2 separate regions of the Homo sapiens genome follow, and region 2 is linked to region 1. The links come from fine-mapping of genetic effects on gene expression. Tissue or cell type: whole blood. Region 1 holds a variant in brackets; the other region holds the start of a gene. All regions are shown on one strand. Distances are from middle to middle.

Evidence for each region.
Region 2: it holds the start of CFAP161, and the variant in region 1 is fine-mapped to the expression of CFAP161 in whole blood (TOPMed, PIP 0.94).

Annotation. Positions count from the first base shown.
Region 1 is chr15:81,075,292-81,091,637 of GRCh38, reverse strand. It overlaps LOC124903540 (a long non-coding RNA gene), which reads right to left and starts at 11,931. Exons shown (of 3, transcript XR_007064734.1): 1 at 11,503-11,931; 2 at 10,371-10,483; 3 at 9,148-9,361. The variant CT/T (reference allele first, on the strand shown) is at 6,236.
Region 2 is chr15:81,127,974-81,144,319 of GRCh38, reverse strand. It overlaps CFAP161 (cilia and flagella associated protein 161), which reads right to left and starts at 10,050. Exons shown (of 7, transcript NM_173528.4): 1 at 9,922-10,050; 2 at 8,961-9,050; 3 at 7,572-7,804; 4 at 6,185-6,269; 5 at 500-658. The coding sequence starts at 9,990.

The sequences.
Region 1 (16,346 bases):
TGATTTCCAATTTCATCCATGTCCCTACAAAGGACATGAACTCATCATTTTTTATGGCTGCATAGTATTCCATGGTGTATATGTGCCACATTTTCTTAATCCAGTCTATCATTGTTGGACATTTGGGTTGGTTCCAAGTCTTTGCTATTGTGAATAATGCCTCAATAAACATACGTGTGCATGTGTCTTTATAGCAGCATGATTTATAGTCCTTTGGGTATATACCCAGTAATGGGATGGCTGGGTCAAATGGTATTTCTAGTTCTAGATCCCTGAGGAATCGCCACACTGACTTCCACAATGGTTGAACTAGTTTACGGTCCCACCAACAGTGTAAAAGTGTTCCTATTTCTCCACATCCTCTCCAGCACCTGTTGTTTCCTGACTTTTTAATGATTGCCATTCTAACTGGTGTGAGATGGTATCTCATTGTGGTGTTGGTTTGCATTTCTCTGATGGCCAGTGATGGTGAGCATTTTTTCATGTGTTTTTTGGCTGCATAAATGTCTTCTTTTGAGAAGTGTCTGTTCATGTCCTTTGACCACTTTTTGATGGGGTTGTTTGTTTTTTTCTTGTAAATTTGTTTGAGTTCATTGTAGATTCTGGATATTAGCCCTTTGTCAGATGAGTAGGTTGCGAAAATTTTCTCCCATTCTGTCGGTTGGCTGTTCATTCTGATGGTAGTTTCTTTTGCTGTGCAGAAGCTCTTTAGTTTAATTAGATCCCATTTGTCAATTTTGGCTTTTGTTGCCATTGCTTTGCCATTCAGAAATATTTCTAAATAATTTCCCCTACTAATTCTATATCGTTAATGAGGTAAAATTTACACACAGTGGAATGCACAGATATCATGCATATAATTTAATGAATTTTGAAAAAGGTACCACCCCTATCAAGACAAAGAATACTTCCATCACCCCCAGAAAATGCCCCCATGTTTCCCTTTCTAGTCAATTTCCCAGTCCACCCCTTAGCCAACTGCAGTTCTAATTTTTATCAACATGGATTAGTTTTGCTGATTCTTAACTTCAAATAAATGGAATCATGGTATCTGGGAGGCGGACAGGATTCTAACCCTTAGCTTCTTGCAGGTCCTATGCCTGATGGTCCCAGTTACATTTCTCCTATCCAAGCCACTTCTTGCTGGACTGAGTGGGAAGAACTCTTAACTCTGGGGCTCCATCCCCTAAGCTCATGATGTGGAAAATTTAAAATGAGGCCACAGTGATCTCTGTTGCATTTTCAACTTAGAGGACATTCAATTTAGTTTTCTGCCATGAGCCAGGCTTATACTCCTGAGAGTTCTTTATTCCATCCTTCCAGATCTCCTGGAGCAAAGTCTGTGTACATTTTAGTTACTTAATAATGACTCTTCCTCCTTCAATTAACCTGAATGTTTTTTATTTCATTACAACGCAAGCCCATTTCTACATGTTTTCTCCCCAGTGAAGCTGTTGAACAATTGGTCAATAGTACAGTAATGCAATAAGAAATCTACTTATATTTCACCCTATGATCTCACTGGGCATAGATTTTCTGTATCCATTCTGAAGAATTTGGCATTGAACATAGGTTTGTGTTACAATTGCTACATACAAACTTGAATTTGAATTATAACTCTACCAGCAACTGGTCCTATTTTCGAGTCTTGTTATTGTCTGTCCTTGGCAATGCAGTTGTCCCCGGTGGAAAGCATGTGTGCATTAGTGAGCCACACCTCCTTGAGGGTGTCTCTCACCTGGGGTCAGCTGTGCACATAGCTCCCCTAAGTAGCCTTTGCCTAATCTTGCCTTTACCTCTCTTGCCTATACCTCATGTCATAGAACTCTCATCAAAGTGCTCAAGAGCTTCTTGAAGGACACATTGTTTCTATATCCCCAGCAGTAGCCATCACCATAAAGGCTGACTCAATAAAGATTAATAAATAAATTAATCAATAAACTATCTGGCTCAGTCTGGGGAAGAGTAAGAGATGGGTTCCTCAAAAGCATTGACTCCTTCCCATAACCAGGGGTGCTCCCTTCTTGGTCCCGAGCCAGTACAGATTCAGTACAAATCCATGACCAAGATCCTCCCTATCCTTAATAAATCTTGGTCCCAGGGTAAGGGGTAGAGAACCAGAGGGAAAAATGTCTACTAAATGTTTCCAGTGTCATTAAATGGCTGGCTATCCCAGACTTCCCCTCAACCCTCTCATCTCATCTGGGTGCCCACTTTTAGGGTAATTACAACTATGCTCTCCCCAAGTTCCCTTCTTATAACTCGTCTTTTTTCTCTGTCAGAGGCTTACTTTACGTACACAGTTCGTCAGACTGCACTTATTACAAAATAAAGGAATGCTCATTCCCTAAAAAAGGTCTTCCATTTTCTTCATTCTGTATTCGGTAACCACAATCCTATCCACAAAGCACACTATTTCATTAAACGCAAGTTTCACTGAGTTCTTAGGCTCCCAGCATATATGCTTACAGCCTACTTCATTGCCTTCAGTAAAAGAAAGACATTCTAGGGTATACGGGTTTTTGGGGGGCAGTGAGGCAGTTAGGCAGAGGTTCGGGGAAGAGTGATGATGGAAGTCGGAGGAACTCCTGCAAGGGCAGCCTGTAGGCTCATCAGTCTGGAGAGACCTGGACAATGCCTGGTAGGACACTAGTGAACTCAGAAAACAGCCCTTGCAGAGTGGCATGTAAGGGGTTAAGGCCATCCAGACTTGTTTATGGAGCAAACACTGTAGATCCCAGAGGGCAGGGAGAATAAAGTTGCTAGAAAGTGCATGTAAGTCTCTTTTCCTTGTCTTGTCTTGGCTGCCTCCATCCTGGAAGTCTGGCCCTGCATCACAAGAGTTCTTAAGTTATTCCATTAAGCACGTGATTTTTATCCACAAACAAATGTTTAGCCTCTTAGATTTTCTCTGCACTCAAAAGCCAAAATGAATACCATCCTTTGCATAAAAAACAGCTGACCTGGAGCCCCAGACCATATGAGGCAGAAACTCACACTCCCCACGCTCTGCCCTAGCAGCTGTGCCCCCACGGCCTCTGAAAACTTCCCCAGGCAGTATCAGCCATCCCATCGCACAGTGCTGCAGCAGACTACAAAACAGAACTAATAAGAAATATGCACGGGTTATAAATCATGGAATCAGAGCTAGAAGGGATGTTACAAACCTTCTGATCCAACTCTTACATTTTAAAGAAGAAGAACCTGAAGGAAAGCGATTTTCCTGGGTCATGTAGCAAACAAGCAGTGAGGTAGGCTCTGGGTTGATTTGACCCCAGCTATGAAGCCATCACTTTAAGCAACATGCCGTGATGATACCAGACATGTTTTGTGAACCTTTCTAGTTAACCTACAGAGATGAGTGAAGTCCTCTGGAAACTTACAGAAACAAAAAGCAGTTCTAGGGTATACAGGTTTTGGGGGGCCAGTGAGGCAGTTAGGCAGAGGTTCGGGGAAGAGTGATGGTGGAAATCAGAGCAACTCCTGCAAGGGCAGCCTGTAGACTCATCAGTGTGAAGAGACCTGGACAATGCCTAGTAGGACACTACTGAGCTCAGAAAACAGCCCTTACAGAGTGGCATGTAAGGGGTTAAGGCCGTCCAGAGTTGTTTATGGAGCAAACACTGTAGATCCCAGAGTGCAGGGAGAATAAAGTTGGAGAAAGGGCATGTGAGTGTGTCTGAATGTGTGAGCATGTGTGAAAGCATGTGCATGTGTGTGAAAGTATATGAGAATGCACCTGTGTGTGTGCATGTGTGTGTGTGTGGGTGCATGTGTATGTATGTGTTCCTGCATGCATGGGTGAGGGAGATCAGAAAGTGCAGGGGAAAGGAAAGAGTAAAGTGGGGAGAGCCCAGACAGCAGACACCCAAAGCATTTGGATTCTTTTTTCACTTTACCAAAAAACATAAACTCAACATGACACTAAAGAAAAAAAAAGCAAAAAGAAGTAGGGCACAGTGGCTCACGCCTGTAATCACAGCACTTTGGGAAACTGAGGCAGGTGGATCACTTGAGGTTAAAAGTTCAAGACCAGCCTGGCCAACATGGTGAAACCCTGTCTCTACTACAAATATAAAAAAAATAGCTGGGCATGGTGGAGTGCCTGTAGTCTCAGCTACTTGAGAGGCTGAGGCAGGAGAATCACTGGAACCCGGGAGGTGGAGGCTGCGGTGAGCCGAGATTGCGCCATTGTCTTCCAGCCTGGGCTACAGAGTAAGACTCGATCTCAGAAAGAAAACAAAAGCAAAAAGAAAACAAACTCTTAGTCCTATCATTTAGACATAACAACCATCGTATTCCCTTCTAGTCATTGCCCAAATGCAGACCTTTTTGTTTTGGCATGTTGTTGTCACCGTATGGGAAACATTTTGTAATGTGTTACCCAACATATTGTAAGCATTTTTTTCATGTTGATGAACTAACTGAAGGCTGAGACATCATCATTTTCTGAATGACTCCCTGATGGCTGGATATTTAAGCTGCCTCACAAATTTTACAAAGTAAAGCTGTAGTGAGGTTTGGAGCTTGTTTTTCTTATGAATTATTTGCTTAGGATAAATTCTCAGGAGTGTAGGTCAAGGGTCATGCACTATTTTTGGCTTTTGTTACGTATCATTAAAAGAATCAAACCCAAAAGAGTCCAGCCAATTATACTTCCACCTGCAGTGTGGAAAAGTGCTCACTTCATTAGAACTCTCTTCCATGATAAAACAAAACAAAACAAAACAAAACAAAACAAAACTATTTTAATGAGATCCTAAAACTCCTACATGCATGGAACTAGTTTGGCACCTTTATGACATCTTGTAGCACCAAAATACACAATAGACGACCAATAGCCAATCCAACCTTCTGATTCCTAAAGTTTAAACAAATTAAGAAACTGTCTTTAAGAGAAAGAATATAAAACCACCAACATATAATTATATAATTAGATATGAAAGGGATATTTTCAAATGAGAGAAAAAACTGAAACAAATCACAAATGTTTAGAAAGCCAGAAATGCCACAAATTTATAAATTGAAAAAATCTAATTTTTACTAATTAACTGCTTCTACAACCCTTTTTTCCTACATTTTTGGCTGCCTATTCATTGATCTCCTCACACACAATGACAGTTTTCAGTATCTTCTTCTGTAGCAAGAATAAAAAGCTAATTTAATCTTTCATCTGGCCTGGTGGATCAAAATTTGTTCATTACCATTTAATAAATTATAAAGGTTTCTTTTCATTTCACAACTTCGCATTAGTTCTATTGCATAGAGTTTTAGAATTATACAATCTGGAAAACCCTCAGTCAAATTTCTTTTGTATATGAGAGGAACTTGTCTTTGTCAGAGGAGGGTGTTTTATCAAACTTTTAAATCAGAATTTCTTTTCCCAATTGGGACAGATCACTGGAGTTTCTGTTACAGCTGCATGAGAAGATGATCTAAGCTGAGTCTGAATGTATTTCAAACCTTGTTTTTCCACCAGTACCCACATACTTCCTGCACTGGCTGCTGTGGGATGTGTACCTATGGGCTACAACCCCCGCCCTGCACCTTAGTGACAAGGTGGCACTGAGTCAGACAATGAATGGTAGGCGTGTTCCCAAAAACCATTCCTATAAAGGAATAGGGAACAATAACTTAACTCTACATGGAAGTGGCTGTGAATGACATAAATATATCCCATCAAACTCAAACTATTAGGTGGGTGCAAAAGTAATCGCGGTTTTCGCAATTACTTGAAATGGCAAAAACTGTGATTACTTTTCACCTAATAGATGTATTTCTAAGCCAATTTTACATCCTAAATATACCTGCAGCTGCTCTGACATCAACAGACACAAGCGGAAATTAACAGAGGGGAAGCCAGAGTGGATAGCAATGGTGGTCTTAATCAAATGTGATTTAAAATATGTATTGGTTCAAATTGTATAAAAACATAAGAACATGTGAACACATTATGAGGGCTCCTCCCCAGGGCCTTGGAAGGGGTCTGCATGGGGGAAGGCATCTGAGACCTAAGCTTCATTCTCTTCATCTGTGCATCACCCTGAATTCATTCCTGTATCACTTTGATAGAGTGAGAATTGTTCATTACCTTAATTGTATTAGGGTGTTGTGTGGGATTTTTTATTGCATCTAGAATTATGCTGAGGAAAAAATAGACTTTTGCATTCTGAATAATTATCATCCCCCTCCAGAGATGACTAAGAGGAAGCAGAGCCCATTACCACGTCTTCCC[CT/T]CTAGTCTCTGTATTAAGGAGATAAGGACTGGGGTGTGGTGGGGAGGAAATCTGGAGAGTCATTGGAATCGTAAGTCATAGAACTATTTGGGAAGTTCTGGGGGTTTTCTAACCCCCATACCAAATAATGGGTGGTCCAAGAGAACCCTTCATAGTGACTGGGTGGTTTGAAAGGAGGAGAACTAATGTCTCACTCTAAGTTGAGTGATTGTGCAGTGTAAGAGGTGTCATGCTTCCATGCCTAAAGCAGCCGGGGGAGAGAGAATTGAAGAAACAATCGCAGATGAAAAGCAGGGTAACAGGTGGCAGTTTAAATTCCCACTATTTGGAGAATCAAAGATATGTACATTTGTCCTAGAGTGGTGGGCACAATACAAGTAGCCAGGACCAAGCCTTCTTGCCACTATGCCACTCAAAAGCAATGGCCAGCAGGTGAGGGAACCGCAGCAAGGGGAAGCTCTAGACACCATCAAGGTGGAGCTGATAGGAGGTCAGGCCAGAACGCATCTCACATGCATCTCACACATAAGGGAACCGTGCAGATCAGAGGCTGCTTCTTCTTCTTCTTCTTTTTTTTTTTTTTTTTGAGAGAGAGTGCAGTGGCACCAATCTCAGCTCACTGCAGTCTCCACCTCCCTGGTTCAGGTGATACTCCTGCCTCAGCCTCCTGAGTAGCTGGGACTACGGGCACCCACCATCATACCCAGCTAATTTTTGTATTTTTAGTAGAGACAGTGTTTCACCATGTTGGCCAGGCTGGCCTCGAACTCCTGACTTCAGGTGATCCACCCGCCTCGGCCTCCCAAAGTGCTGGGATTACAGGCGTGAGCCACCGTGTCTGGCCAGAGGCTTCTTTCTAAAGGGCCTACTACAAGATACCCATGTGAGTCCCTCAGAGGGGCTGCCACTGAGCATCTGCTACCCAACGGCCGTGGTGGAAAAGCAGTAACCATCGACATAAAGAGCACCACAGTAGCACCAGCCCCCAACACAATGCAAAAGAGTGACCCGGGGGAGGGAGAGGAGGGAAAAGAGAAATCTAATCTCATCTGTCCCAGGTCCCGCAGGCCTAAGCCAGGTGGAGTGAGGAGGAAGAAAGTATTAAATTCAATATGATGATTTTTCAACCAAGGCTTCATTCAGATCTGCCCCAGATGCCACAAGGAAGAGGAATTGGGGATTTGTCATAGAACAGTTGAAGGCAAGGAGTAGAGATTTTTTAAAAAATGTCTCAACAACAAGTTCAGACTGTTCAACAAATTATTCATAAGTTGTAAGAATCAGGGAAAACAGATCAGGAGCTGCTGTGCAGCTAGAATCATCCTTCAAATGGGTTTCTCTGTTTTCTTCCACATCCCACAAATGTGCTGGCATGAAGTTGCCACTGGTATCCTTGGTCTAATGAATTTCCCAGTTAGTGGAAGAGTGTTTCTCTCCAAATCTCTGTTTTATTAATCAGAGTGATAGTCATGAAAAATAATGCTTAAGAAAATGTGTGCTTTTAACTTGTATGATATGTAAGCCTTCTGGGCATAAAGGCAAGCTCATGTTTACAATTGTTTTTCTACTTTGGGAATTCTCTTCGACCATCCAGCTAGCGAGAAGCCATATGGTCCAGTGAAAGGAACGTGGAACCAGGCACTGGTATGCCTGGGTTCCAGGCCCTACCCTGTGGGGAGTCAAGGGTAAACGTTCAGCTTTCTGGACCACATCTTCCTCAAAGAAAGTGTAAGACTTCTCCAGGGTGTTGAGATTAGCAAAAAGCAGGCCTAGGTCTCAAACCCAGGTCTTCTGACTCCAAAATGAGCACTGTGCATCTCTCTGAATTGTGTCTCTCTTTTTTTCCATTCGGTAGGATCTGAAGGATAGTGACACCATCTTGTCATATCTGCATCCCCAGTACCTGTCAATGTCCCTGGCATTGAGTAGAAGCCCAGAAAAGGTTAAGTGAATGAATACAAAAGCCATGTCTTTTGCAATCAATCAGAAACTGTGCGCATCAGCATTTTCTTAAGTGTCTCCCATGACACTGATTGATGAGCCCCACTGAATCTTCAAAATAAACATGAAATAAATGGAAGTAGAAAAAAGCAGAAAGTGAAGCATGCTGCCTGTCTCTCATGGTGTGGCTGACCAGGGATAGCAAGAGTATCATTGATAAAATGCACTCATCCACATGCCACGCTGTAGCCACTTGTCATAGGGAAGGAAAAATTTGCTTTAAAAGCTGGCTACATTTGACCCACTTTTGTTTGTTTGGTTGGTTGGTTAGTTGGTTTATCTATTTATTTTTCATTGTATTTTTTAAATTTATTTTTAGAGATGGAGATCTCACTATGGTGCCCAGGTTGGTCTTGAACTCTTGGGCTCAAGTGGTCCTCCTGTCTCAGACTCCCAAAGTGCTGAGATTACGGACGTAAGCCACCACGCCTAGCCTGTTTGTTTTTTAACGAGAAAATTATTCCTTTTCTGTTCATGAAAACATGTTGATGAGTCTTCTTAAGCTATAAAAGGTGAGCCTAAATAGAAAATGAGCTGCATAACATAGGAACAGGAATTTGGGGATTGTTCCCTTACAGAATAAGACGTAAGGAGCCGGGCATGGTGCCTGTAAAATCCCAGCACTTCGGTAGGCCGAGGCGGGCAGATTGCTTGAGCCCAGGCATTTGAGAACAGCCTGGGCAACACAGTGAGACCTCATCAACCTTGTCTCTACTAAAAATAAACAATTAGCCAGGTGTGGCAGTGTGCGCCTATGGTCCCAACTACTAGGGAAGCTGACACAGGAGGATCACTTGAGCCGGGAGGTCGAAGCTGCAGTGAGCCAAGATTGCACCACTGCACTCTAGCCTGGGCAACAGAGTGAGACCCTATGTAAAAAAAAAAAAAAAAAAAAAAGACGTAAGGACGGTGTGGTCTCCAAGCCTTGGAGAAGAGGAAAGATGGAGACATCTCTCCCAAGGAGAATAGAACCCAGCTACAAGGCTGTGATGTGCAATCTAGAAAGTACCTGGTGAAGAAGTGGTCCAGAGTGAAGGTAGGGCAGCAATTGCCTCTTCTGAGCTTCTGTGCATCAGCATTTTCTTAAGTGTCTCCCGTGACACTCATTGATGAGCCCATTGAATCTTCAAAATAAACATGAAATAAATGGAAGTAGAAAAAAAGCAGAAAGTGAAGCATGCTATCTGTCTGAGCTGTTTTCTAATTCCCCTCTATGATTCCTAATTCCTTAGTAAATGTCCCTTATCTGCACAAGTGTTATTGGTGCTTTGAGGATTTCAGGAAAAGGAACTGTACATACTGTTGATAAAGCAAATCAAAAATAGCAGCCATCACAATTCCCATTGCAGGAGGGTTGGCAAATGGAGAGATGAAAATGCACCAAGAGCAGGAATACAGAGTAAGAAGCAAACAAGAGAATACAAGTCCTCCCACTCCCTGCCCCAGGATCCTCTGAGACTTTTGAAGAGGCTGCTGGACTTCCCAGCATGTGAAGTAGATGAGTTCCAGCTATTTTATTTGACTATCCTAGCAGAGGTTGGTAGTACCCTTACCTTACCCACTTCAGTGAATAACACCTGCTGGTTTACAAATGCCAGGCCCTTCATTTTCTGGTTTGGGGCTTTCTCTTCTCACTGCAGCCTTTTTGATGACGATTGCAGTGGGATGGAAGAACAGGGGAATCAAAGCACAGCCTCCGCTTGCACCTCAGAGCAACCCTCAACCAATGACTGATGGGAGCCAGTATATAAATACCCCAGCTCCCTTGCCACTAATGAGGGGCCAACTCTGAGCTGTACTTTTACATTTGCTTCAGACATTTCCCTCTGGGTGAAGCTCTAGTCACTCTTGGTGACAGCTGGCTTGATAAAGCACCTTTAATTGGCTGCCTTCCCTCCCCAGTCTCACTACCCCCAACCCCTCTGTTCACTTCCCAAATAAAACATCTGCTTCAAATTCCTTGTCTCAAGATCTACTTCTGGTGGAACCCAAACTAAGACATATTACATGAAAGAGCAACTCTATGAAGCTGAAGAACTTGGGAACATTCAGATGACACCTGGGGAATCTGATGAAGCAGGAAATCCTTCTCAGACTCCATGTAAGCCTCAAACAGGATTCAGCATAACTTACATGTGTGAATGTTTCCATACTAGCGGCCCTTTCCATGCCCAAATGCAAATCTCTTTCCACTTGCAAATGACCTCAAGTGTTCTTTCTTGCGGGGTGAACCATCTGCTCTACTCCTAAAAAAATCCAATAGAAGAAGCCAGATGGAGTCCATGACATTTTTATTTGTGACAGTTTGACTACTGGCCAAAGGGATGGAAGAACAAGAATCACACAGCATGGCCATTTTCTATTCCTTGGGCACTTGAGAGCCTCCTCCATGCTCATCTCTGTCAATACAGAAGTTGGTCCCTACAAGGAGACCAGAAATGGTGGTGGGTAAAAGAAGAATGGGTTGGCTGCACCATGGATGAAAAGCTTCCTGAAGAGGGACCTTGTTGCCTTCTCATCTCAGCTTCTCTAATTTTTTTAACCACTTTTTTCTCTGTATCTTTCCAGGGCTACCCATGGTGACTCCTTTGTTTCTCTTCTCTCAGACTAAATCCAAATGACAGCCTCCCATCTCTTTAGTGCTCTCACTCCCTCCACATCAGCTCTTACCTCATACCTCAAGACCTCAGGCCCTTACAGCTTCCACCTGGCTGCACCCCCTTCCTTATACTGGTGGAGCCCCCTTCTCAGCCACACAACCCATTCTCTCATCAGCAACTTCTCGTGCCCATATCGGCACCAATTAAAGCATTTGCCATCTCTGCTCCTTCACCCTGGGATAAGCCGAGCTAGAGAAAAATCAGACAATTGTTCGGATCGGCATCCCTACATTTTATTCCTTACAACTTCTAGACCATATCTCTAAGCAGCCAAATTAACCTCCTAATCCCAGTTGACTTTCACTCGTATCATTTCTTATCTACTACTCCAGTGAATGTGTGTGTGTGTGTGTATGTATGTATGTGAATATGTGTGTATATGTGTGTGTGTATGTGTGTATAGTAGAGATGGGGTCTTGCTACATTGCCCAGACTGATATTGAACTCCTGGCCTCAAGTGATCCTTCCACCTTGGCCTCCCAAAGTGCTGGGATTGCAGGTATGAGTCACTACGCCCAGGTTGAATGTACTTTTTGAGGAACCTGGTGGTCCCTTTCTCCTTGTAATGCATGTTCCTGAGATCTAGATCTAGTTTAACCACTCACTAAGCAAGAAGGGTGACCTGTTATTCACTCATAGTCACTGCAGACGCCAAGAGACTCTTAGGGAGCCAATGAACCATAAGCAGAGGCTGGTGTGGATCCGTACATTTCATGCCAATGGTCTCCCCTGAAATAAATCAGAATATGCCTTAATCACTTGTCATCACTACCATGATGACAAGTGATTGAGGCATAGTCTGGGTCATGTCTTACCTTATATCTCTTACGGGGATAACTGGCTATTCAGCCTGATTCTGGAAAAAAGAAGTAAAAAGAAAACAGTCCCACTGAGAATTCATAACCACAAGTTTCCCCACAACATGCAGACCTCAGGTCAGAATTATATTATCTGCATGTCCAGAAAAACCTTAAGCCAAACTATTTTTTTTTTTTAATTTGAGATGGAGTCTCGCTCCGTTGCCCAGGCTAGAGTGCACTGGCACGATCTCGGCTCACTGCACCCTCTGCCTCCTGGGTTCAAGCGATTCTCCCACCTCAGCCTCCCAAGTAGCTGGAATTACAGGCATCCACCACCATGCCTGGCTAATTTTTTGTATGTTTAGTAGAGACAGAGTTTTGCCGTGTTGGCCAGGCTGGTCTCGAACACCTGACTTCAGGTGATCCACCCGCCTTGCCCTCCCAAAGTGCTGGGATACAGGCATGAGCCACTGTGCTCGGCCCCTAAATCAAACATTTAAAGTGATTTTTTTTTTTTAAATTTCAACTTTTATTTTAGATACAGGGGCACATGTGTAGGATTGTTAAATGGGTATGTTGGGCCCAGGTAGTGAGCATAGTACCCAATAGGTAGTTTTTCTTTCTTTTTTTTTCTTTCTTTATTTTACTTTAAGTTCTAGGGAACATGTGCACAACGCACAGGTTTGTTACATATGTATATATGTGCCATGTTGGTGTGCTCCACCCATTAACTCGTCGTTTACAATAGGTATATCTCCTAATGCTATCCCTCTCCCCTCTCCCCTCCCCCCACCCCATGACAGGCCCTGGTGTGTGATGTTCCCCACCCTGTGTCCAAGTGTTCTCATTGTTCAATTCCCACCTATGAGTGAGAACATGCGGTGTTTGGTTTTCTGTCCTTGCGATAGTTTGCTCAGAATGATGGTTTCCAGCTTCATCCATGTCCCTACAAAGGACATGAACTCATCATTTTTTATGGCTGCACAGTATTCCATGGTGTATATGTGCCACATTTTCTTAATCCAGTCTATCATTGATGGAAATTTGAGTTGATTCCAAGTCCTTGCTATTGTGAATGGTGCCACATTAAACATACTTGTGCATGTGTCTTTATAACAGCATGATTTATAATCCTCTGGGTATATACCCAGTAATGGGATGGCTGGGTCAAATGGTATTTCTAGTTCTAGATCCTTGAGGAATCACCACACTGTCTTCCACAATGCTTGAACTAGTTTACAGTCCCACCAACAGTGTAAAAGTGTTCCTATTTCTCCACATCCTCTCCAGCACCTGTTGTTTCCTGACTTTTTAATGGTTGCCATTCTAACTGGTGTGAGATGGTATCTCATTGTGGTTTTGATTTGCATTTCTCTGATGGCCAGTGATGGTGAGCATTTTTTCATGTGTCCGTTGGCTGCATAAATGTCTTCTTTTGAGAAGTGTCTGTTCATATCCTTTGCCCACTTTTTGATGGGGTTGTTTGATTTTTTTCTTGTAAATTTGTTTAAGTTCTTTGTAGATTCTGGATATTAGCCCTTTGTCAGATGGGTAGATTGTAAAAATTTTCTCCCATTCTGTAGGTTGCCTGTTCACTCTGATGGTAGTGTCTTTTGCTGTGCAGAAGCTCTTTAGTTTAATTAGATCCCATTTGTCAATTTTGGCTTTTGTTGCCATTGCTTTTGGTGTTTTAGTCATGAAGTCCTATATTTAGAAAACCCCATCGTTTCAGCCCAAAATCTCCTTCAGCTGATAAGCAACTTCAGCAAAGTCTCAGGATACAAAATCAATGTATAAAAATCACAAGCATTCTTATACACCAATAACAGACAAACAGAGAGCCAAATCATGAGTGAACTCCCATTCACAATTGCTTCAAAGAGAATAAAATACCTAGGAATCCAACTTACAAGGAATGTGAAGGACCTCTTCAAGGAGAACTACAAACCACTGCTCAACGAAATAAAAGAGGACACAAACAAACGGAAGAACATTCCATGTTCATGGATAGGAAGAATCAATACCGTGAAAATGGCCATACTGCCCAAAGTAATTTATACATTCGATGCCATCCCCATCAAGCCACCAATGACTTTCTTCACAGAATTGGAAAAAACTACTTTAAAGTTCACATGGAACCAAAAAAGAGCCCACATTGCCAAGACAATACTAAGCCAAAAGAACAAAGCTGAAGGCATCACGTTATCTTATTTCAAACTATACTACAAGGCTACAGTAACCAAAACAGCATGGTACTGGTACCAAAACAGAGATAGAGACTAATGGAACAGAACAGAGCCCTCAGAAATAATACCACACATCTACAACCATCTGATCTTTGACAAACCTGACAAAAAAAAGCAATGGGGAAAGGATTCCCTATTTAATAAATGGTGCTGGGAAAACTGGCTAGCCATATGTAGAAAGCTGAAACTGGATCCCTTCCTTACACCTTATACAAAAATTAATTCAAGATGGATTAAAGACTTAAATGTTAGACCTAAAACTATAAAAACCCTAGAAGAAAACCTAGGCAATACCTTTCAGGACATAGGCATGGGTAAAGTGATTTTTTTTTAATGTTTAAACATTTAAAGTGATTCTTTAAAAATTAGTAGTGCTTTTTTTTTTTCTTTTTTTGAGACAGAGTCTCACTCTGCCACCCAGAATGGAGTGCTGTGGACCAACCTCTGCCTCCTGGGTTCAAGTGATTCTCCTGCCTCAGCCTCCCGAGAAGCTGGGACTATAGATGTGTGCCATCACACCCAGCTAATTTCTGTACTTTTAGTAGAAATGAGGTTTCACCATGTTGGCCAGGCTGCACACCAGCTCCTGGCCTCAAGTGATCTCTGCCCTCCTCGGCCTCCCAAAGTGCTGGGATTACAGGCATGAGCCACCACGCTGGGCCAAAAGTTAGTAGTGCTCTTATACATCTGGTAAAAGGAAATTCATGTTGTCTCTTGATGAACATGTGTTAGAACCAAGCTTCAAAACTGTTCTGTGGCTAAGGCCCCAAGATTTTCCCAATGATAAATCATAAAACACGCTAGAAATGTGCCATCATGAGTAAAAGGCAGCAGAAATCACCAATAGCAGAATCAGATCCATCATTTACATAACATAAAGCAAATGTGTTTGATAAATAAAAGTGGATGCCAAAATATGATAAATGAACCAAGAGATTATAAACAAGGAGTAAGTAGTTATGAAGAAAAGAAAAAAAAATGAAGTAAAAAAAGGGTGAATTAAGGTTTTAAATTCATCTATAGTTTGAGCAGCAGAATAGACACAGCTGAAGAAAAATAAATGGGTCAATTAGAAGACAGAAGGCAGAAATTATGCAGAAAAGTACATACAAATATACAGAAATAGAAGATATGAAAATATGAAAGACAGGTTGGCAGCCATGGAAGAGAGAGTGAAAAGGTCTAACATATATGTAACTGGGGTTCCAGAAAGAGCAGCTACTCTACGGAAAGAGAGAATGAGGATAGGAAGTATACAAAAATATAATATCTAAGAATTTTTCAGAACCGATAAAAGATAGTAATCCTCAGATTCAGGTAGACATCGGGAGTACTCTGAAGATGCGCTTGTATCGGCAGCACCAAGATTTCTATCTCATAATCCACTGGGTACCAAAATAGTAGGGACAGAGAAAAATGGGCCTCTCGATTTGCCCTTAGAATACAGATCTGAGACTTGACCCGCATATGCTTCTCATATGGAAGCAGTAATAATAACAGCAATAACAACAATAACAGCAAACACATGATGTGCACTGTTTCTTCAATTGCAAAATTAGGAAGGAGAAGGACGTAATCTCTAAAACCAATCCTAGTTCAGACATTCTATAAAGCTTGAAAAGGGTTGTAATCTCTATAAAATCCCTTGGATCAGAAGTTCTCTATCTACTTGATGGAACTCAAAGACAGCTAGTGTGGAAATACCCGAGTCTGAATGGACACTTGGCCCTCCTCTGAAGATGGGCTGCAAGCTGCCTGCCAGATCTGTGGGTTGAGGATACCCAGAGCTACAGTGAACTTACATAGTTCCCTTATACAAATTGGAAAAAGATAGTCTTCTGCATGCACCTTTTTTTTTTTTTTTTTTGAGACGGAGTCTCACTCTGCTGCATGGACCAACTTTTTAAAGTTATCCTTCAAGTTGACTCATGAGGAAAACAAAAGTTATCCCTTTGTGAGAAGAAGCAGGTTTCCTTTCCTATGGATTGATGTGACCCTCTACCAGGAAAAACAACGTGGCAAGAGAAACAAGGTCTGGATTTTTGCTCTAGCCACCCACCTCTGCTGGGTATAAACGGCACAACCTTGGCGGATGCTCACCAAGCCCATTCCTTCTTTATGGGCATGTGGCTAAGCTGCATCTCCCAACTCACATCTAAATGAACCCATATGACAAGTTCTCACCAATGCAAAGTGAACCGTCATGATGCATCACTTTCAGTCCAGAGCAGTTAGAAATAAAGGTGCCTCCTCTATACTCATGTTTCTCCCTCCATAGTAACTTGGAGGCCAAGTGTTGAAGGTGGCTGAACTACAGGTTGGAAAAAGCCTGAACCTCTGAGTCAGTGCTTATATGGAAGCTGGCCCAGAAGAGCTGTCCCACCAGAAACATCTGCAGGGGGC
Region 2 (16,346 bases), 53 kb before region 1:
CCTGGGCTCAAAGTCCTTAAAAAATAGTACTTAGCGGAGGCCTTAGCGAAAACAGTGCGAAGGAAGCAGTGTCACAACGCTCATGATCGCACATCAGTGGTTCTTATCCTGATGACAGGGGCAGGGCCTGAGCTTTTTAGAAAGTTCCTGAGGCGATTCTAACGTGCAGCCAGAGGTGAGAAACTCTAGTGCAGGATGCTGCCATGGGGTAGATTAGTACCTCCCAAACTTGTGTTACAAACGGAAAAGAGACAGAAAGTCATAAGGCATTTGAGCTATAAGTCTGTGTGTTATAAATGGAAAAAAAGAGACAGAAAAGAAAGAGAAAGTCATAAGGCATTTGAGCTATAAGTCTGTGTGTTATAAATGGAAAAAAAAAGACAGAAAAGAGAGAGAAAGTCATAAGGCATTTGAGCTATAAGTCTGTGTGTTATAGACAGGAATAAATTGCATCCATTTCATAGCCTAGACACCCATGTCTTCCCGATGCTGCACTCACCGGGACGGGGAAGCCTTCATATTCCAGGCGTAACTGGGGGTCAGGGAAGGCAGCCTGCCAGCAGTTCACATGGGAGACCTCATCTGTTAGGTACACTTCCTGGAGCCAAGACCTCTTAGACGATTTCAGGAGGGTCCTGTGGTCACTTGACAAATACAACTGAAAATGACAGCAAGCAGATGCACTAAGTCAGAGCTCTGTGAAAAGCTGGAGAATAAAGAAGCAATTGACTGGCTGGACGGCAAGCACATTCAAAGCAGTTCTCAAAAACTCTGTTCTTACTGATTGTATGAGAAAGCACAATTTTCCTCTACCTTAGATATGCCATCTGGCATGCTGAGACCAAGACACACACACACACCTACACACACTCACATCTCCAACTACTTTTCCTTCCTCTGAATACCAAACTCAATCTTCCTCTCTCCTTCCTACTCCCTGTCCCCTGTTCCCCTTCAGGATATAGGAACTGGACCAATGGGTTTGTTTTGTTTTGTTTTGTTTTGTTTTGAGACAGGGTCTCATTCTGTTGCCCAGGCTGGAGCGCAGTGGCAATCATGGTTCACTGCAGCCTCCAACTCCTGGGCTCAAGTGATCCTCCCACCTCAGCCTCCCGAGTAGCTGGGACTGCAGGTGCACACTGCCATGCCCAGCTGATTTTTTTTTATTTGTTGTAGAGCTAGGATCCCACTGTTTCCCAAGCTGGTCTTGAACTCCTGGTCTCAAGCAATCCTCCCACCTCAGCCTCCCAAAGTGCTGGGTTTATAGGTGTGAACGACCATGCCCAGCCATGGACTAATATTTTATTTAATATAAATGATGTTGCATTAAACTCATCACGTGAAATGAATTATTCTTCAAATCAATATCCTCACAGCTGATATTCATTTGTGAGCCTTCAAGGTGACCCACACCCCTCTGGAATTGATGTCCATGCTGGAAATTTATGTCGGCTATCTGGCTGCCTGTAACCTTGCCAGGAAACAACCCCCATCCTGCTGAAAAGTCCAAAATGTTAGTCCTTTGCTAGTTCTTCACTGGTTCAGCCCCGCCCTGAATGTGGAGGTAGTTTCTGCATATTTTGACAGGTTTCCAATAAGCACCTTTCCCATGCAAGGCTGTGCTGTGAGGCACTATGGGGAAGGCAGAGATGAGTTACTATCCTCATGAGGTTCTCCACCTAGCAGAAGAGGTGATTGAGCACAAAAATGGGAAGCACCTGCATGCAGCTTTCTGGTTAGGGAGGTCCAGCAGATTTGCAATGAGCTGTGGGAGGCAGAGGTAGGAGCACGGTGCTTTCCTGGGGGATCAAAAGAGGCTCTGAGGAGGAGGCTGGATAGCCAGAGGGGGTGAACACAGAGAGGGTGAGGATGTATTACAGAAGGCCTCAAATGCCACAGCAAACAGGCAGAACTTCATTCAAAGGGCAATGGGGAGCCACTGCTGACTCCAGTGAGGATGGGGGTGACCAGACCTGTGCTTGTAAAAGATCAACCTGAAAAACAAATAATAATAATAATAAATTTTAAAAATTAAAATGAAAATTAAAAAAAAAAGATCAACCTGGCAGCACCCTGTCTAGTATGGTCTGAAGTCAGGATAGACTAAAAGGGCAAAGCAATGGGGCCTGGGTTGCTGAGGGGCTGCACTGGGGCAAGAGAAACAGGCCAAAGTGCAGTATGAAGGGAGAAAAGAGCCTAGGAACAGCGGAAGAGACCTGGTAATCAGCTGGACGTGGGTGGGGAAGGGAGATGGGCCCAAGATAGATTCGCCATTGGCCCTGGATGATGGTGCCTTTCAGAGCAACAAGAAAACCAGAATTTAAAAAGGCAAATAAGGCCAGGTACAGTGGCTCATGCCTGTAATCCCAGCACTTTGGGAGACTCAGGCAGGAGGATCACTTGAGGTCAGGAGTTCGAGAGAGTCTGGCCAACATGGTGAAACCCTGTCTCTACTAAAAATACAAAACTTAGCCAGGTGTGGTGGCAGGTGCCTGTAATCCCAGCTACGCAGGAAGCTGAGGCATGAGAATCGCTTGAACCCGGGAGGCAGAGGCTGCAGTGAGCCGAGATCACACCACTGCCCTCCAGCCTAGGCAACAGAGTGAGACACCAACTTAAAAAAAAAAAAAAGGCAAATACTATCTGTCTCAAACCACAAACTGCCTTGTTCACCTAAAGTAAAACCATAATAAAATCAGGAACTAACCCAGTAGGCCACTATTTCACCAACGCTTCTATGAATGCCCCAGAAGGGTTTGCTAATTCAAAGACAAGAAACCAAAATTCGAGGTATAAGAATTGAGGAAGAGAGAAAATTGTCATCATTTGAAGATTAAATGACTGTCTTCCCAGAAAACATAAAAAAATCAACTGAAAAAACTATAGAATTAATAAGAGTAAGTGATCTCATCAAAGGTGAATATAAAAATCAATAGCCTTCTTATATTTTTATAAGAGAAATTATCCTTTATTCTATCAAATGTTCTATCCTTATTCTATCAAAAGGACCTCTCTACAATAGCATCTGAAAATACAAGATACCAAGGAAAAACCCTTAACAAAATCATTGTCAAGTCCATGTAAAGAAAACCACAAAATCTTACTGGGTGATAGAAAATTTTGCTGACAGAATAAATGGAGAGACATCTCAGAAGAATAAATATGGCAAAGTTACTAAATATGTGAATTTACTTAATTTTACAATGCCAATCAAAATATAATACCAAGTAATCTTTTCCCCACAGGGGCAGAAGGACTTGAAAAAAATAACCATTATATTTAACTGAGAAATTAATTCCTAACATAATTCAGACAAAGAAGTGTAATGAGAGGCAACTAGCCCTATGAGCTGTCAAGGTCACAGGGCTATGAGCCCTATCATAAAGCTCTAATAATTAAGACACTATAGTCCTAGAATAAAAATAGAGAACTGGGCTGGGTGCAGTGGCTCACGCCTGTAATCCCAGCACTTTGGGAGGTGGAGGCAGGAGGATCACTTGAACTCAGGAGTTCAAGACCAGCCTGGCCAACATGGCGAAACTCCGTCTCTACAAAAATAAATAAATAAATAAATAATAAATAAATTTTAAAAACTTAGCCAGGTATAATGGTGTGCACCTGTGGTCCCAGCTACTCAGGAGGCTGAGGCAGGAAAATTGCTTGAGCCTGGGAGGTGGAAGCTGCAGTGAACCATGTTCGTGACACTGTACTCCAGCCTAAGTGACAGAGTGAGACCCTGTCTCAAAAAAAAAAGGAAAAAAAAAGAAATAGACAACTAGGGTTTAATGGATCAAAATAGAAAGCTCAGAAGCACAGGGTAGTATATACAGTAATTTAATATATGCTAAGGGAAATGTCATGCACCTGTAGAGAAAGGAATAATCATTCAAGGGATAATAGATATAACTGACCAGTCATCTGGGACAAAATGAGATGTTCACATAAAACCCTTTATCAAAATAAATCCCAAGTTGATTAAATAATAAATGTAAGCAAAAGTCAAATTGCAAACATCTAGAAGCTAATTCTAGTTTTTCTTTTTATCAGATCTCTGAAGCAGTCTTAAAAACATAAAAGCAATGGAAGGAATTACATTTTACTCAAAAATATAATATTAGAACAACTACAATTTAAAAGCCAAGCAGCAAATGGAAATATTAGCAACACATATGACAAAATTTAGTAATCAATGGTATATAAACCCAAATCAACACAAAGGCAAAAAACGGATGATTTGCAGGAGAGAGGAGAGGGAGGGAGAAAGAAAAAAGAAGCGAGAGAGAAAGGAAGAGATAAGGGAAAGAGAACAAACTTAAAATATAGGAGAAATTACAAGTAGTACAACATTTACATATCATTTTTTCTTTTCATTTTGTTTGCTTGTCAAATTAGCAAAGTTTTAAATTATGATATTTAATACAATTAATGAAGCAGTATATGATCATTCTTACTGTTGCTGAGAGTGCAAATTGGTACACCCCATTACAAAAAGAACTCTTTATATGTATCAATACTTTTAAATGTGTTCATATTCTTTGACTTAGTAATTCATTGCCCAAAAATCTATCCTAAAGGTAGAATTCCTAATTTGAAGTTTGAGAGGGGAAGATTTAAGCATTTATACACAAATGCACACTGGAACTTTACATATAAAAGAGAAATATTGGACCAAACCCAACTGCCCAAAAGTAGAAGAAAGACTAGGTAAATTATGATACCGCCACACAATTATATCTTATGCTCTCATTAAATGATTTCGTCATTTTAAAAAGCTTTAAAAATGCTATTTTAGAAAGAATAACCTATCTGTATATTTATCTAAGTTTTAAAAAAATACACAGGAAAGTAAAAATAAACCAAAATGTTAATGGTGCTAATCTCTGGTTAAGAAATGGTAATTTACTCCCTTTTTTCAGTAAGTCAATATTTATCAGGCTGCAACTTACCATCTGTGGGGTGTCAAAGTTTAATTGGTAGCATCGTTTCTTCTTCTTTTTATTTTTTATTTTTATTTTTATTTTTTGACACAGGGTCTCTTTCTGTCACCCAGGCTGGAGTACAGTGGTGCAAACTCTACAGTTTCTACCTTCCGGCTTAAGCAATCCTCCCACCTCAGCCTCATGAGTATGTGGGACTACAGGAGCGCGTCACCATACCTGGCCAATTTTTTTAAAATTTTTAGTTGAGATGAGGTCTCGCTATGTTGCCAAAGCTGGTCTACAACTCCTGGCCTCAAGTGATCCTCTTGCCTTGGTCTCCCAAAGTGCTGAGATTACAGGCATGAGCCGCTGCACCCAGCAGGCAGCATTGTGTTTTCTTAGTGGTATCAAAAATAATAATAATAATAACGCTACATCATATAGTAAATGGATTTTTAATTCAATAAAAAATGTGATATAGTACTAGCTCTGCTACTTGCTAACTGAGTGACTTGAGTCAGAAATCACTTAACCTCTTGGTGCCTCAGTTTTTCCATCAGTAAATTAAAGGTAAAATAGTCCCTACCTCAAAGGCAAGTTTGGGGGATTAGGAGAGTTGAAATATGTGAAGCATTTACAACACTGCCTGGCATGTAGTAAGGTAGATTAATACTCACCATCTTATGGATGAGAAACAGGCTCAAAAAGCATTAAATAACTTACCCAAATTCCCATCCCATAGGTACGCACCTGAAATTCAAACCCAAATCTATCTGGTTCTATTATACTTCCTAATCCCCAAGGCTCCCTGATTTATGCAAATTTAAGCATCTCATATTGTCCCTACTCCCATACTAAGCAAAAGTCTGATCATCAAAAGTTTAAATAAAAAAGTTGTCAGATAATATGCCTTGCTAGCATTGGCAACATTTGACAGGTATCAGATGGTTATTAATGAATTCAATCATTTAATTTACAGGTGGAAGTGGTATAAACTTTTGCTTTTTGCCAGCTGCATTGTGAAATGGTTTTCCTCCCTTACTGTTTAGGTTTTAAGGGTGTAGTTTTTGTAATTTGGGAAGTTAAAAGGAAAGACTGGCTTGGCCCAAAACTGCCTGTGAAAAGCTGCAAGCTGACACCATAGTGAAGTCAGAGGTGGAGCCCATGACTCTGGAGTTCTCTGTCCACTTCAGTAGATAGTTATGATCCCATTTTGGGCAACAGAAATGACTGATCCAAAGTAGATATGCAAAGTGATAACTCACCATTTTGTTGTCAAATCCTCCTGTTATCCCCAGGCAAAAGTCCTGCCCATATCTAAGGACTTGACCAGTGGCATCTCTGTGTACACTGTCAGTGGACAATAAGTATAATGTAAATGTAAACTCTCTGTATTAGAATCATTCTATGACTCTATTTTTTATGCATGCAATTTTGTTTATAATCAGTTTTTTGATAATTTATATTCACATACTGTAACTGAATTAGGTAATTAAATAAAAGGTGTTTTCTTTTGGTCTTAAAATCCAGCTAGCACCCTACTCCCTGCCCTGCACCATAGCTAGCACACAAAGCATCCCCACTTTGTGAGCCTCTGGTTAGAGTAAACTAAGCACATCTTGCTAATGTATACTAAGGAATTCTGGTCAAGTGCATTGACATGTTCAGAGAGAACCAAGGTAACACATTTGTAGACATTTAATACGGTTCCCTCTTAATCCTTCAGGATAACAGAGGTTGTGATCAATTTTTACTTGTCTTAACATATGTATTCAAAGGAAATCTAAATTAGAACTTGAAGAACTGTCTATATATTCTTTTTTTTCCCCCAGGCTGGAGTTCAGTGGTGCAATCTTGGCTCACTGCAACCTCCACCTCCCAGGTTCAAGTGATTCTCATGCTTCAGTGACACAAGTAGCTGGAATTACAGGAGCCTGCCACCACGCCCAGCTAATTTTTTGTATTTTTTGTAGAGATGGGGTTTCGACATGTTGGCCAGGCTGGTCTCGAACTCCAGACCTCAGGTGATCTGCCTGCCTTGACTTCCCAAAGTATTGGGATTACAGGCATGAGCCACTGTACCTTGCCTGGGTCCATATATTCTTGCAATGCTTACATTGCTGTCATACGAATTAGTAATAGTTTTTAATTGTGATCATGTATCTATTTCTTCTCTAAGGATTTAATTGTTCATTTTCAAAATCTCTTCAAATACATTTTTAATGGACAGTTAATTTTAAAAGAGAAAATCCCATCTAGTGCCACATTGTATTAAACTACACGTTTTTATTGTAAAAAAAAAAATAGCCGTATTAAGAACAATGAAAACACTCAAATGAGCTCAAAAAGTTCCAAAATGTTATAGGGAAAACCTACTTTGCTTCCAGGCAGAATATGGATTTAATTCCCTGGATCCTATACTCATGATTTAAGCATTTTGAATTGAACACAATTATCCTGCTGTCTAAGGTAAAAAGGGATTGTAAAGTTCCTTTGACAATAATTCTCAAGGTAAGCAAAGCAAGATGAAAATCACGAAAAATGTTCACAAAACCTTTCCCTCCACTCAGTGGCTCCAATACCCAGGAATCTTTAAGCTACAAGTGAAACATATTTATGATGAAAATGAACTGAAAATTAAAGTCTCTTTACCTCAAAATGATAAAAGTGTTTCTGCCAATTGGGGTCTTGGCTTGAACTGCGCTCAGGCCACAGGGTACCTCTAATTCGTCTTTCAGATGGGACTGAATTTCATCTGGAGTCATACACAGGCTCAGGTCCCCACGCAGAAACACATCAGCTTCTGTGTCAGGATCATCAGGATTCACAAGCATCACTTTGTCACCGTAATGAATATAGCCATCTTCAGTTACGGAAAGTTGCATCTACAATTTTGATAGTAGTTTATTACATAAACCATGCAATTCCTCAACAGTTACTGCCAAGGCAATTTTCTTCCTTCTCGGACTAGTACCCATTTCATTCAGGATTTCACTTGGATTCCCTCGAACCCTTAGTTCCTTCTTCCTTTCCCTTCCCCTTTGCCAAGGCAAAGCTCCCAATAATTCCAAATGAAGTCGAATAAAGCTGGTTAAAATCACATGGATTTACTCATTATCCTAGAAATTCAACATTCATTGAAAAATTTGTCGATTACCAACTAAGGGGCATTTTACTTATTTACATATTAACTCATTTATTTCTTTATTTGTAAAATGCAGGTAAACATGATTTAGGGCAGACTGTTTATGTTTCTAAAATCTTAGAAGAATTTAAAACATTGCAAATTGTTTTTAAAAACTGTTATTTTCCAAATGGTAACTCAGTTATGAAATTTTTTTCTTGCTTAACATATACTCACACCAAGTTCAACAGAATTTTGAAAACAATGTCTGAATTTAAAGTTACCGGTCTCAATAAACATACGTGTGCATGTGTCTTTATAGCAGCATGTTTTATAATCCTTTGGGTATATACCCAGTAATGGGATGTCTGGGTCAAATGGTATTTCTAGTTCTAGATCCCTGAGGAATTGCCACACTGACTTCCACAATGGTTGAACTAGTTTACAGTCCCACCAACTGCGGCACTATTCACAATAGCAAAGACTTGGAACCAACCTAAATGTCCAACAACGATAGACTGGATTAAGAAAATGTGGCACATATACACCATGGAATACTATGCAGCCATAAAAAATGATGAGTTCATGTCCTTTGTAGGGACATGGATGAAGCTGGAAACCATCATTCTGAGCAAACTATCGCAGGGACAGAAAACCAAACACCGCATATTCTCACTCATAGGTGGGAATTGAACAATGGAGAACACATGGACACAGGAAGGGGAACATCGCACACTGGGGCCTGTTGTGGGGTGGGGGGAGGGGAGAGGGATAGCATTAGGAGATATACCTAATGTTAAATGACGAGTTAATGGGTGCAGCACACCAACATAGCATATGTATACATATGTAACAAACCTGCACGTTGTGCACATGTACCCTAAAACTTAAAGTGTAATAAAAAAAAAAAAAGTTACCGGTCTCAAGAGATTCTGTTTTAGTCTTCTACTTCTCTGTATGAGAAGTTTCCCCTTGTCTCTCTTCTCTAAGAAGTCTTTCATGAGCTCCTAAACAGAAAATCAACAAAAGTAGCCCTGAATAATATAGATGTTAGTATTAATAACTTTTAGGTCAGAAGCTCTTCCAAGTTGAAAAAGCAAAATTTGAGTACAAAAAAAGAGATGTGAGCATAATTGGAATGATGGAACGTTTTTAGCACTACTTTAATATTTTTACTACATTATAGAATGTTTAGAAAAATGAGAAAGGCAAAACAAAGAAAAAGAAACATCACCAGTAATTACTCCAGCCAGATACCATCCTAAATGACATTTGGAGGCCATGTCTCCCCTGCTGGGGTTTCCCTTGACCGTATGATGACTGACACTAGAAAGTTCACCCCTCCCCAATCTGACCCGTATACGAATGGCTCAAAGCCTTGTTAAGACCACCCTTGGGAGAATACGAGGCAGTGAGTGAGTACAACGTCAATAAAAGGAATACTCAGGGTCATTTAAGAGGGCAAGCGTGGCAGGGTTGGAGTGGGGAGGGATATTATTTCTACCTAGAACCTGTGTCCTCACCTGGCCCGCAGCCTGAGACTGTAAGACTCTAAGGAATACGGGGGACTTAGTGGGGCTCTAGACTAAGCGGGAGACACAGGCCAGGGGCTTGAGAGTCAAGGCATCTGACTTTGGGAGGCCAAGGGACCCAGAGAAAGAAAAGTCAGGGTGCTCGGAGTAGAGGTCAGTGAGACCTGGGTTTGCAGTTCGGCAGGTGAGATTCCTTGGGAGTTTAGAGAAGTGGGGGATTTTAGAGGTATTCGCTGTATGCTGGGAGAGAGAGGAGGCTTGAGGCGCTCAAAGTAGGAGACTGAACTTAGAGCAGGGTCTGGGAGTTCCTGAGCTGCGGGTCTGCGCCTGGCCACACCCTGCGTACCTCCTCCAGGTAGACATCCTCATTCCAGTTGCCTATCCGGACTCCCGGACCATACACGTTCTGCGCCATCGCTCCCTGCTGTTCAGCAAGTGGGCCTCCCTCCGACACCATGCGTTAGCGTGGCGCGTCGCCATGACGACCCGGCCCCAGGCGATTGGTCAAGGTCTGGGACCCTGCTGGCCAATAAGCGACAGCGCGCACCCTCGCCCTGGGGCGGGAGATGGGGCGTCTGGGTCAGCGGCTGTCTGTGGCCCTCCAGCCCGCCCCACTTCCACCTCTTAGATTTCCTTAACTGCAGGGTGGGCGAGAGGGAAAACCCTGGCTGACAAAGTGCTTCCGAGAGAGAAATTTAAAGCTTTCTTTCTATTAGAATCTAACCGAAAAGTGCTATCGAGTACCCCTTGCTTGTCGAGGCAACAAAGAGGAGCTTTTAAATGGAAGCACGGCTTGCTTGCAGCCTATTTTTTGTAATCAGCAGCAGCAGCAGCAGCAGCAGCAGCAGCAATTTCGCCCTAATCATAAAACAATACCTGCTCAATGTACACATTTGGAAACCAAAATCGCATAGAAAGAAGAAAGGAAAATTAATAATTTCAGGGCCTTAAAAGTAAGAAATATACCATGTTAGTATATTTCTGTTTATAGGTTTCTGAGGTTGTCCATATTTTTGCGGACTTGACAGCATCCTCCCTCCCTCCCTCCCTTGCTCCCTCCTTCCCTGGGTCTCAAAGTTAAAGGACGAACCTGTGATTTGCAGGAACTCTTAAGAAAACCAGACTCTGCTGTAGCCAGCATTAATAAAACAAAATATTATTTTCTGGGGAGGGGAGGGATACCAGTTACTGTAGGACTACCGGAGGCTTGATGCAGATTGAATGCATTCAGTAATTTACCTCTATTTAGTGTCTAGTAAGACATGACTGAAATGGAAGACAGGAGCCTCCGCTCCCTTCAGCAAACCCAGTCTAAAAGAAAAGATAGTTCATGAAAACGAATTACTTAAGGAAGACTGTGGAAAAATGCAATTAAAGATGTGCTGATGGGCTGGCGTGGTGGCTCAAGCCTATAATCCAGCACTTTGGGAAGCCGAGGCAGGAGGATCACTTGAGCCCAGGAGTTCTAGACCAGCCTGGGCAACATAGTGAGACCCCATCTCCAATTTAAAAAAAAATACATATATATATATATATATATATATATATATATATATATATATATATATGCTGATGAAGGGCCATGGAGTTGAAGGATCCTTTCTGTCTTGAGGAACTGTGAGAATGGGAATTGGATGGCCTTTGAGTGATGGGAGAGGGGCTGCTTTGGAGCTGAACTGGGAAGGATTTGAACTGGCAGGCTGAAGTGTAGAATAAAAATAGGAACATTCCCACATTCTGATGAATCCACCAGCTCTGTCAATATATCACCACATTCGAGGATACTTCTGAAGGACACATAGGACAAAGCAGTTAGATCAGATAGTATACCACTAACTGCATTTGATAAATTCAGAAACTGAGACTCAAAGAAGCTAGCAGTCTAAATTCAAACTGCTAAAAGTTGCTCAAAGAAAGGACTCAGTCCAAACTTTCCGACTCCAAAGTCATGTTTGTTTGTTTTTCCTTTTAAGTATTTTTCATATTCCTCATAAAATCAAGAATAAAACAAAGCAGCTCTAGTCTCTACATTTTTAACAAGGTTCTAATGATTGGGTCATTCAGTAAGTCCTTACACTGATACAGCTTTGCTCCCACCTACTTCCTTAGTGCTATTTTTGACAAGTATATTACATTTCTATATATAATAGACCCAATAATACAATTATACATAGTGTTTTATACAATTGCTTTAAATCACTCAGGAGAAGAAATATCTTTATTGGTGCTCTATGGTATTTTTCTATGAACACAAATTACTGCTTTGTGTTGTTTTCAACCTGAATAACTTCCTTCCATATTTCTTATAAATCAGGTCTGCTAGCAACACATTCTCTTGGTTTTTGCTTACCTTAATAAGATGCTTTTTCTGGATACATGATTCTTTGTTGATAGCGTTTTTTTCTTTCTTTCAATATTTTAAATATGCCATCCTACTACCTCTGGACTCCCTTATTTCTTTTTCTTCCAAGACAGAGTCTCACTCTATCAACCTGGCTGGAGTACAGCAGCACAATCTCGGCTCACTGCAACCTCTGCTTCCCAGGTTCAAGCAATTCTCATGCCTCAGCCTCCTGAGTACCTGGGGCTAAAGGCATGTGCCACCATGCCTGGGTAATTTTTGTATTTTTAGTAGAGATGGGGTTTTACCAGGTTGGCCAGGCTGGTCTTGAACTCCTGACCTCAAGTGATCGGCCCTCCTCAGCCTTCCAAAGTGCTGGGATTACAGGCATAAGCCACCCTGCCCAGCCATGGCCTCCATTATTTCTGATGAGAAATCAGCTATTAATCTTATTTTGCTTCCCTTACACATACTCTTGCTGCTTTCAAGATTTTTTTTGTCTTTGTCTTTAATATTTTAACTAGATATATTTGGATATTGACCTCTTTTCTTTTATCCTGCTTGAGCTGCCTGAATATGTAAATTAATGCTCTTTTCATCAAATTTGGGGAATTTTCAGGCCTTATTGTTTGGAATATTTTTTCTGATCCTTTGTCTGTCTTCTGTCTTTATGAAACTCCCATCATGTGTATATTGATGCACTTACTGATATCCTGCATTCCTCCAAGATGCTATTTGTTTTTCTTCATTTTTTTCTCTCTGTTCTTCAGATTGCATAATTTCTATTGATTTGTCTTCAAGTTTGCAAATTTTTGTTTTGCTGGCTCAAACTTACTGCTGTATTCCGCTAGTGAGTTTTTTATTTTGGTTATGGTACTTTTCAACTACAGAATTTACATTCGGTTATATTTTATAATTTCTCTCTATTGATATTTTATATTTCATAATGAAACACTATCATCATACCTTCCTTTAATTCTTTAATCATGGTATCCCTTAGTTTTTTGAACATATTTATAATGGCTGCTTTGAAGTCTTTGTCTGCTAAGTCCAACATCTGGGCTCTGTCAAAGGCAGTTTCTGTTGACTTTTTTGTTTGTTTGTTTTTTATCTTCTTTCTGTCTGTGGATCACAGTTTTCTGTTTCTTTGCAGGTCTCATGATTTTTTGTTGAAAACTAGACATTTTAGATACAGGAATACATCATTTTATTGCAATTCACTTTATTGCACTTTGCAGATATTGATTCTTTTTTTTTTTTTTTTTTTACAAATTGAAGGTTTTTGGCAAGCCTGCATCAGGCAAGTGTGTTGGAGCCATTTTTCCAACAGCATACGCTCACTTCACGTCTCTGTGTCACATTTTGGTAATGCTCAAGATATTTCAAACTTCCTTATTATTATATCTATTATGGTGATCTGTGATCAGTGATTTTTGATGTTGCCATTGTAGTTGTTTGGGGCACCATGAACCATGGGCATATAAGATAGCAAATCCAATCAATAAATGTTAGGTGTTCTGACTGCTCCACCTACCAGCCATGTCCCCATCTCTCTCCCTCTCCTCAGGCCTTCCCAGTCCCTGAGACACAACAATATATAAATTAGGACAATTAATAACCCTAAAATGGCCACTAAGTGTTCAAGTGTTCAAGTGAAAGGAAGAGCCAAATGTCTGTCTCTGTTTTGTTTTTGTTTTTGTTTTTGAGATGGAGTCTCGCTCTGTTGCCCAGGCTGGAGTGCAGTGGCACGATCTTGGCTCACTACAACCTCCACCTCCCAGGTTCAAGCGATTCTCCTGCCTCAGCCTCCCAAGTAGCTGAGACTACAGGCGCATGCCACCACACCCAGCTAATTTTTTGTATTTTTAGTAGAGAGGGAGTTTCACCATGTTAGCCAGGATGGTCTCACTCTCCTGACCTTGTGATCCACCTGCCTCGGCCTCCCAAAGTGCTGGGATTACAGGCGTGAGCCAAGTCTGTCTCTTAAATAAAAAGCTAGATATGATTAAACTGAGTGAGGAAAACATGTCAAAAGCCAAGATAGGCTGAAAGCTGGGCCTCTTGCATAAAGCAGTTAGCTAAGTTGTGAATGCAAAGGAGAAGTTCTTGAAGGAAATTAAAAGTGCTATTCCAATGAAAACACAAATGATAAGAAAGTAAAACAGCCTGTTTCTGATATGAAAAAAGTTTTACTGGTCTAGATAAAAGGTCAGACGAGCCACCACATTCCCTTGAGCCAAAGCCTAATCCAGAACAAGGCTCTAATTCTTTTCAAGTCTATAAAGACTGAGAGAAGGTTTAAGGAAAAAGCCATCTTCATAACATAAAACTGCAAAGTGAAGCAGTAAGTTCTGATGTAAAGGCTGCACCAAGTTATCCAGAGGATCTGGCTAAGATCATTGATGTAGGTGGCTGCACTAAACAACAGATTTTCAATATAGGCAAAAAAAAAAAAAAAGCCTTACATTAGAAGATGTCATCTAGGACTTTCACAGAGAAAAAAGTTAATGCCTGATTTTCAATGTAGGCAAAAAAAGCCTTACATTAGAAGATGTCATCTAGGACTTTCACAGAGAAAAAAGTTAATGCCTGATTTTCAATGTAGGCAAAAAAGACTTACATTAGAAGATGTCATCTAGGACTTTCATAGAGGAAAAAGTTAATGCTTGCCTTCAAAGCTTCAGAGAACAGGATGAGTATCTTGTTAGTGGCTAATGCACCCCATGCTCATTTACTATTCTGAAAATCCTAGGTGATATGGTTTGGCTGTGTCACCACCCAAATCTCATCTCAAATTGTAGCTCCCATAATTCCCACATGTTGTGGGAGGGACCCAGTGGCAGATATTTGAATCATGGGGGTGGTTTTCCCCATACTGTTCTCGTGGTAGTGAATAAGTCTCATGAGATCTGATGGTTTTTTAAGAGGTTTCCCCTTTAATTTAGCTCTTTTTTCTCTTGTCTGCCACCATGTGAGATGTGCCTTTCACCTTCCACCGTGATTGTGAGGCCTCCCCAGCCATGTGGAAATGAGTCTATTAACCTCTTTTTCTTCATAAATCACCCAGTCTCAGGATGTCTTTATCAGCAGCATGAAAACAAAATAATACACTAGGTCCCTTAAGAATTATGCTAAATCTACTTTTCCTGTGCTCTATAACTGGAAGAAGAAAGCCTGGATGACAGCACATCTGTTTGCAGCTTTGTTCACTGACTATTTTAAGCCCACTGTTGAGATCTACTGCTTAGAAAAAAAAAAAGATTTCTTTCAAAATATTACTGTTTATTGACAATGCACCTAGTCACCCAAGAGCTCTGATGGAGATGTACAAGGAAATTAATATTGTTTTCATGATTGCTAACATAATATCCATTCTGCAGCCCATGGATCAAGAAGTAATTTCAACTTTCAAGTCTTATTATTTAAGAAATGCTTTTTTTTTTTTTTCTCGAGACAGAGTCCTGCTGTGTTGTCCAGGCTGGAGTGCAGTGGCGTGATCTTGGCTCACCTCTGCCTCCTGGGTTCAAGCGATTCTCCTGCCAAAGTGCTGGGATTACAGGCATAAACCACCACAACCAGCCAATAAATACATTTTTAAGGCCATAGCTGCCAAAGATAGTGATTTCTCTGATGAATCTGGGTGAAGTAAATTGAAAACTTTCTGGAAAGGATTTGCCATTCTAGATGCCATTAAGAACATTTGTGATTCATGGGAGGAGGTCAAAATATCAACATTAATGAGAGTTTGGAAGAAATTGATTTCAATCCTCATGGATGACTTTGAGGAGTTCCATATTTTAATGGAGGAGGTAATTGCAGATGTCACGGATATAACAAGAAAACTAGAATTAAAAATGGAGCCTGAAGAAGTGGAATCTGAAAAAGATCACTCTTGGGAAGAATTAAAAATGGAGCTGCAGTCTTGAGGAGGAGTTGCTGCTTATGAATGAACAAGTAAAGTGGTTTCTGGAGGTGGAATCTACTCCTGGTGAAGATACTATAACACTGCTGAAATGACAACAAAGGATTTAGACTATTACATAAACTTATTTGATAAGGCAGCAGCAGGGTTTGAGAGGATTGACTCCAATTTCAGAAGAAGTTCTACCATGGGTGAAATGCTATCAAACATCATCACATGCTACAGAGAAATTTTTCATGTATGAAAATTGTCAGAATTAAAACAGAGTCACTAATGTTAAGATAATTCTGACAAATAGAGCTGGGAAAGACCATAAAGAGAGGGTTCTCACACTTATATGCCTGATAACGAAAAGATTCTACAAAAACCACAGCCTTACACAAAGGTCATTACCACCTTATACAAAAAATACTTCTACAAGGCCATCTACCCAACACTTGCCTATCCAACCTTGGACTGGTGTCACCTTGTTATTGATCTTTGTAACCAAGGAAAATTATTTAAAAAC